Linked DNA regions of Homo sapiens. The protein of the gene in region 1 interacts with the protein of each later gene in a biochemical or structural test. Each region holds a gene or a part of one and is shown in the gene's direction. Other genes may lie near its edges.

Evidence for each region.
Region 2: the proteins of PDCD10 (region 1) and CCM2 form a complex in vitro, tested with the Homo sapiens proteins (one study listed by IntAct).

Annotation. Positions count from the first base shown.
Region 1 is NC_000003.12:167,693,084-167,696,902, reverse strand, and holds part of PDCD10 (programmed cell death protein 10), read left to right. Parts: intron 1-1,180; coding exon 1,181-1,307; intron 1,308-3,819. UniProt on the Homo sapiens protein: Promotes cell proliferation. Modulates apoptotic pathways. Increases mitogen-activated protein kinase activity and STK26 activity. Important for cell migration, and for normal structure and assembly of the Golgi complex.
Region 2 is NC_000007.14:45,059,086-45,062,904, forward strand, and holds part of CCM2 (cerebral cavernous malformations 2 protein), read left to right. Parts: intron 1-3,819. UniProt on the Homo sapiens protein: Component of the CCM signaling pathway which is a crucial regulator of heart and vessel formation and integrity. May act through the stabilization of endothelial cell junctions. May function as a scaffold protein for MAP2K3-MAP3K3 signaling.

The DNA of each region.
Region 1 (3,819 bases):
CCTCCCTTTCACTTATGATGATGATGGTGGTGGTGGTGATAGTGATAGTGGAAGCTAATGTAGATAAAATAGAAAAATGGTTTTTCTTGCTTTTTATATTTGTGAGATTTAATTACTTGAACTTTGTTTATGCTGCATACTTCAATTTTTCCCCCCTTTATGTTTGGTGAGTTTCAGTTTTACTAAAAGATAAGCTTATTTGGAATGTGTTGACTTTAAGCAAACAACAGTTTGAAAGTAATGAGGTTTTTGTTTTGTTGTTTTTTTAACTTTAGTACAGCATCTGTGTTTCAAGCACAGATTTAAGAGAATAATATAACCATCCTTTTTACTTTTCTTATTTTTTTTACTTGAAATTATTTAGACGTTGGTTTTACTTAAGTTTAGTAGCAGTTTTCCCACTAATTTAGAAAAATATGGACATATAATTTCCCAGAATTATTAAGGAAGAACACAAAGCAGGTATTTTAACTGATTCCATGATTTTAAGAAAGCCCTTATCATTATTTAGAGTTGAGCATTTGCAGCCCATTAGGCCATAATATATTGATGAATTGGTAGAGTTGTAATGCTTCCAAGTCTGCAATGAATCTAGTGAAGTCTCCTTTCCAAAATTGGTGTTCTGTGATCCCAGCCTGTGTGTTGGATTTGTGCTGGTGTTTTTGTTTTTAAGTGAGATTTCAAAAATGTGTAGAAGATTTTATTAGATTATTTGGGGTTTTAATATGATGAAGCAATGTATATTAAATATAGGGGTTTTAAATTTTTAATCTTTCCAGTTGGCAAGTAGATATTACCTTTGCACTAGTTATGACACTCATTATTTAATTTAAGGTTTCCTTGGGAAATGTAATGTCAGAGTACGGTTGAACTTAAGCCTCCCTTTTAAATCTGTTTTTTTTTTGTGTGTTTTTTTTTTTTAAGATTTCATGGGATGTCCTTTTGTCCCAAATTGAAAATATTTATTCTTTCTTTTTGTGATACTTTACTTGAAGGGAGCCCTGCTGTTGTTACTGGACTAAGTCAAACGCTAATGAATTCTGCTTTGCAACCTTGTCTTTCCTAATTATCTGGCCTTTCACCTCCCTCACCTGCCTTTGACCAACATTGGAAATTCTTAGATGTGATGAATTTGGCAGAGAGTCGCAGGATGTTTTTTATTATGTATTTATTTTATCAGAGTATATGATTGAACGACCAGAGCCAGAATTCCAAGACCTAAACGAAAAGGCACGAGCACTTAAACAAATTCTCAGTAAGATCCCAGATGAGATCAATGACAGAGTGAGGTTTCTGCAGACAATCAAGTAAGCAATTATTTGTTTTGTTTCTTCTTTTCTTAAAAGTACTTCCGAGGAACTACTCATCTACATTTTTTAATTTTGGTATGACTAACTTGAAATGCTTATTTGAAATAAAATCTCAAATTTTTAAATACCACATTTTATTAACTTTATGGCGTTTGGTTTCAGAGTACAGCATTTTTTAGAATGTTTAATTTTAAAACAACAATGAAATGTGCATAAACTGGAATGTAGTTTGAACTACATAAATGATGGGAAGATATAAATGTCAGATAAATGAATAGAGAAACTGGATATATCCTAGAGATTGGTAGTAAGATATACCAAAATAATTTTTATTTCAGAAATAGCAGCAGTCATTAAGGTAAGTAACGTACTCTTAGGCATGAGTAGTGTTTTCTAAGACTGACCAAATAGCCTCTAAATCCTTGCCTTTGGGGGATATAGGTTAAATAAGACCAAGAATACTCATGGGGCCAGAAGGCTGGCTGGTGAGCAGCAGCAAGAAGGGTCATCCTAGAGCAGTAGTTCTCAGACCAGGGACACTCTTCTGGAGTACAGTGAAGGGTGAGAGGGTAGGGGATTGAGTGAAAACATAATCCCTACATAAGTATCTTTAAACTAGAAAGTCTGATAATTTTCTTCAGCCTCAGTGGATAAAAAACAAAGAAAGCTGGGAATACTTGCAGTGTCACTATCAATGCATGGTTTTGGTGAAACCATAGGTAGATATTGCTGGGGAGAAAAGATTTAGCGCAGGTCTTTTTCTGGAAGAGGCTGTGACATATGTGGTAACTTTGAAGAACCTAAGGAGACTCACTTGGAATAAATAGTAACATTCATCTTTTGGAGTTTGGGCAGTGGGAGGAGTGGCAGCAGCCAGGCAGCCCAGCTTTGTGAAGGCCCTCAGCATGCCATGGCCCACATGCATCTGATATGCGCCTTCCCCACTTCCAGGATGCCCAAGAGGACGGTCAGCTCAGCTGATGGGACAGTGAGGGAAGATCCCAAAAGGAGATTGATGTGGTTGTCAGCTAAACCTGCTCTTTCAGTAGTGGAAATTGAAGCCCCAAAAGGTAGCAGGAAAAGATAAATCTTCAGGCAAAAAAGTGCAAACAAAAGAGAAAAGAGTAGGAAAGTGAAAACAAGCCAAAGTAGCTAAGAATAAAGATTTACCTGCAGAAAACAGAAAAACTAAAACTGAAGAGAGTCCAGCCTCTGAAGCAGGAGAGAAAGAAGCCCAGTCTGATTAATATCGCATACCATGTCTTATCAGTGGTTCCCCGTCTCTCTTCTTACATAATCCAGGAGAATATTTTTATCAACTATGTTGTAAATGCATGTTTTTTAGTAGCTCTAATGTTTTTTAATAGCTCTAGAAACATTTAAGGAGGGAATTCCACTGCATTCCATTTTTTAAGTGTAAATGCTTTTTTTTTTAAAGAGGTGAAATAATTTAATTTGCTGGTTATTTTTTGGTACAATGGGAAAATAATGTTGGATATTGAATTATGGGAAGCCTTGACTGTTATGGGTGTCAGCTTAACATTCCATAGATGGGTGGTTAGTTTTTATATCCCATAATATAAAGCATACTAAATGGCAAAGTGGAGTCGCAGTCCTGCATTTCATGTCTTGAACATTTTTAATTACTTCACTCTGTCACCCAGGCTGGACTGCAGTGGCATGATCATAACTTACTGCACCCTCAACCTCCTGGGCTCAAGCAGTCCTTCCACCTCAGCCTCCAGAGTAGCTAGGACTACTGGTGTACAACACCACACCAAGCTAATTTCTTTTTTTTTTTTTTAATTTTTAGTAGATAACCACATCTCCCTACATTGCCCAAGCTGGTCTCTAACCTCTGAGCTCAAGTGATCCTCCTGCCTTGGCCTCCCAAAGTGTTGGGATTACAGGAGTGAGCCACCACACCTGGCCTTAAATTACTTCTACTCTTCATGTTGTTTTTTAGTGGAATTGTTTCCTTGGGCAAACCACTCCTTGAGCCTGGCTCTACCTATCAGAATTGTGTGCACTCTGTAACATCTTTGGTCATGGTAGTCCTGTTTTTCTAATAACTTTGTTAATGTGCTGTGAAAGATTAAAGTATATAGTGTATATGCTATTAAATTGTGAATTGGTGGGACGTATGTGACAGCTTATCAACATTTGAAGGTACTGGTACTTGATAGCCTTTTAAGGTAATTTTGCCTCAGTTGTAAGCTGGAAAGTCACTGGAATAACTTTAGAGAATAATAATGATACGTGGCTTTTTAGATTTTGCAGTACATATGTTCAGAATTATGTACAAGTTGAAATGTCTGTGTACTGATCCTCAACACAACTGATGAAATCTCAATTATGAAAGAAAAAGAAAACATTCATCTTTTGAAAATAGTATTCTTTGTCATTCACATTGAGAAATGCTATTTTAGCTTGTTTGGATACCTAGCTAGTTTGGATACTCTCTTTTGAGTCACATAAAGAGAGGAATATGTCCCATAGAAAATAATGG
Region 2 (3,819 bases), on another chromosome or scaffold:
GGCCACACTAGTCTTGAACTCCTGACCTCAGGTGATCCACCCATCTTGGCTTCTCTAAATGCTGGGATTATAGGCATGAGTCACTGCCCCCGCTACGATTGATATTTGAACATTGAATTAGCCTTGCACACCTGGGATAAATCCTGCCTGGTCGTGGTGTATAATTATTAATACATTATTGGATTCAATTTGCTGATTTTTTGTTTAAAAGTTTTGGCCAGGCATGGTGGCTCATGCCTGTAATCCCAGCACTTTGGGAGGCCAAGGCAGGAGGATCACTTGAGCCTAGGAGTTTGAGACTAGCCTAGGCAATGTGGCGAAACCCTGTCTGTTAAAAAAAAAAAAAAGAAAGAAAGAAAGAAAAAACAAAAAATACAGGCTGGGTGCGGTGGCTCATGCCTGTATTCCCAGCACTTTTGAAGGCCGAGGCGGGCGGATTGATTGAGCTCAGGAGTTCGAGACCAGCCTGGGCAACATGGCAAAACCCCGTCTGTCTCTACAAAAAATACAAAAATTAGCTGGGCCTGGTGGCATGTGCGTGTAGTCTCATCTACTAGTGGGAGGATCGCTTCAGCCTGGGAGGTTGAGGCTGCAGTGAGCTGTGATTGTGCCACTGCACTCCAGCCTGGGCAACAGAGCAAGACCCTGTCTCAAAAATGTGTATGTGTGTATATATATATATTTATTTTAGTGGTTGCCTTAGGGTTTGCAATATACATTCACAACTAATCAAAATCCACTTTCAAATAATGCTGTGCTGCTTCACAGGTAGTGCAAATACCTTGTAACCAAGTATTCCCAGTTCACTCCTCCCACTGCTTATAACATTGCTGTCATTTATTTCATTTATCCTTAGGCTACAGTCACCCAATACACAAATTTTATTTTGAACAAATTGTTAATGTGTTAGAGCAATTAAAATAAGAAAAATAAAAGATTAATTTTACCTACATTTATTTCTTCTCTGATGCTTTTCCCCTTCTTTACATAGATCAGAGTTTCTGACCAAATCATTTTCATTCTCTCTGAAGAAGTTCTTTTAACTTTTCTTGAAATGTTAAATCCCTGAGTTTTTGTTTTTCTGATAAAAATCTTTATTTCTCTTTCACTTTTGAAGGATAATTTCACTGGATACAGAATCAAATAGTTCCCTCCTCTCTCTTCTTGCTTGGATGGTTCCTGAAGAGAAATCCAGTGTCATTCTTGTTCTTGCCATTTTATAGGTAGGATGTTTTTTTCCTGTGGAAAAAATTCCCAGATTTCTGCAAAGAGAGAATCTTCCTTTCTAATTTTCTTTTTGTCTTTGATTTCTGCAGTTTGATGTGATTTGCCTCAGTGTAAATTACCTGCTTTTTACCGTTTCATGTTCTCTGACCTTATTGGATCTGTGGATGGGTGTCTGACATTAGTTTGGGGAACTTCTCAGCTCTCATTACTCCAAATAGTTATTGTGTTCTTTTCTTTCTCTTGATATCCTCATTGCACATATGTTACACTTTTTGTAACTGTCCCACAGTTCTTGCATATTCTGTTTTCTTTCTTTCGTTCTTTTTTCCCTTTGCTTTTCATGTTTGGAAGTTTCTGTTGACGTATTCTTAAGCTCAGAGAGTCTCTCCTTGGCTGTGTCCAGCCTCTTGAGCTTGTTGAAGGCAGTCCCCATTGCTGTTACAGGACTTTTGCTTTCTGGCATTTCCTACTGATTGTTGCTTAGGGTTTCCATCTCTGCTTATGCTGCCTATCTGTTCTTACATGATGTCTACTTTTTCCGTTAGAGCCATTACCATATTAATCGTAGTTGTTTTAAATTCCCAATCTGGTAGTTCCAAAATCTCCACTATGTCTGAGTCTGGTTCTGATATGAGGAACTTAGGCGTCAGGTTAATAGGCCTTAGTGTGAGGTACGTTTGGCTGGCTGGGAGTTGGGCTGTGTTTACTGTTTGCTGCCCTTGTGATGCTGGGGGATAAAAATCTCCTGTGTATCCTTGTTTTTGTCTTCCATTGTTTTTGGGTTTTCTTCAAGATTCCTTCTTAAATAGAGTCTGAGGCCTGCAGTTCTTATAGGTGTGCATCCCTGTTATTACACAGGGGTCCTGTTGATGTGGCTTTCAGGGGAGAGGAAGTGTTCTGTAGTCCTGGGATTAGGTCTCAGTGTTTTAGTGAACCTGTGTCCCTGGGCCGTGGCCTTCACATGTGCTTCTCAGTTTTGTTTTTTTCCTCCCCCTTAGGAGAGACATAAACGATAGAGGAGGCAGGAATTGGGTGTTTCCTTACCCCTAGGTGGTTAGGCTCTGGTAAAATAGTTTTCCTTGAGGAAAGCCCTTTGTTAAGGATAACAGAATGCTCTGGTCATGCCTTTTTCTTTCTTTCTTTCTTTTTTTTTTTTTTTTTTTGAGATGACCTCTGAGCCCTTTATATGTTGGTTGGGAAACTGGAGTGCAGTGGCACCATCATGACTCACTGCAGCCTCAACCTCCTGGGCTCAAATGATCCTCCCATCTCAGCCTCCTGAGTAGCTGGCACCACAGGCACACTGCCGTGCCCAACTATTTTGTTGTTGTTGTTGCTGTTGTTGTTCTTGTTGTAGAGATAGGGTCTCACCATGTTTCCCAGGCTGGTCTCAAACTCCTGGCCTCAAGCAAACCTGCCGCCTTGGCCATCCAAAGTCCTGGGATTATGGGCATGAGCCACCACACCTGGCCTGGTTATACTTTTAAATGATGTATTCTTCCCTCCTCCTACCAGAGTATGAGGAGATGTTTCTCCAGTCTCACCCTGAGAGCCTGGTGGGGCTCATGGAGGTAAAACTCAGACTGGTATGGGGACCTCCCCAGTGACTATTCCCCTGGAGTTTTTGTCTCCTACTGGTCCATGCTCAGTCTCTGCCATTTGTCAGTTCCCCTTTCCTCTCTGCTGGTGCTGGCTCTAGGGTTTCTGCCCCGCAATGAGCTGTGATTCTTAGCATTGCATATCTGTCTCTCCATCTTTGGGGTTATTGTTTTTTCATGTGACCTCAATTATCTGATGGATCTGAGAACAGTCATTGATTTTAAGTTTGCCAGCTTTCTTGTTGTGAGGATGGGAGTGATGACTTCTGAGCCTTTACAAGCTGGACAGGAAATTGGAAAGTCCCATTTCATTCTTTTTTAATAGAGAACTTAACTGTGTGAGGTAATGAACAACTGAGAAATGTTGAGTGCAAGAAGCCTGTTCTTGGGAAGAATCAGCAACCCATTTTAAAAAACAGAAACATTGAAAATGTTATGGTGGTTGGTAAGATGCAGGCAGGAGCACAGCAGGTACAGTGCTGCTGCCCACAGCCTTCTACACCTGAGGCCCTGCATTATGGAGGTTTGCTAAGCCAAGTGCCTCATGGCCATGTGTGACCAAAAAAACCTTTTTACTAAATGTTTTGTGCTGCTATAACAGATACCACAGACTGGGAAATTTATAATGAATAGATATTTCTAGGCTGTGCATGGTGCCTCACACCTGTAATCCCAGCACTTTGGGAAGCTGCGGTGAGCAGATTGCTTAAGTCCAAGAGTTCGAGACCAGCCTGGGCTACATGGCAAAACCCTGTCTCTACAAAAATTAGCCAGGCGTGGTGACACACACCTGTAGTACCAGCTACTCAGGAGGCTAAGGTGGGACAATTGCTTTGAGCCTGGGAGGCAGAGGTTGCAGTGAGCCAAGATCACGCCTCTGCACCCCAGCCTGTGTGATAGAGTGAGACCCTGTCTCAAAAAAAAAAAAAAAATCGTATCGTTCTGGAGGCTAGGAGGTTTAAGGTTGAAGGGCACAGCTGGTGAGGGGCTGCAT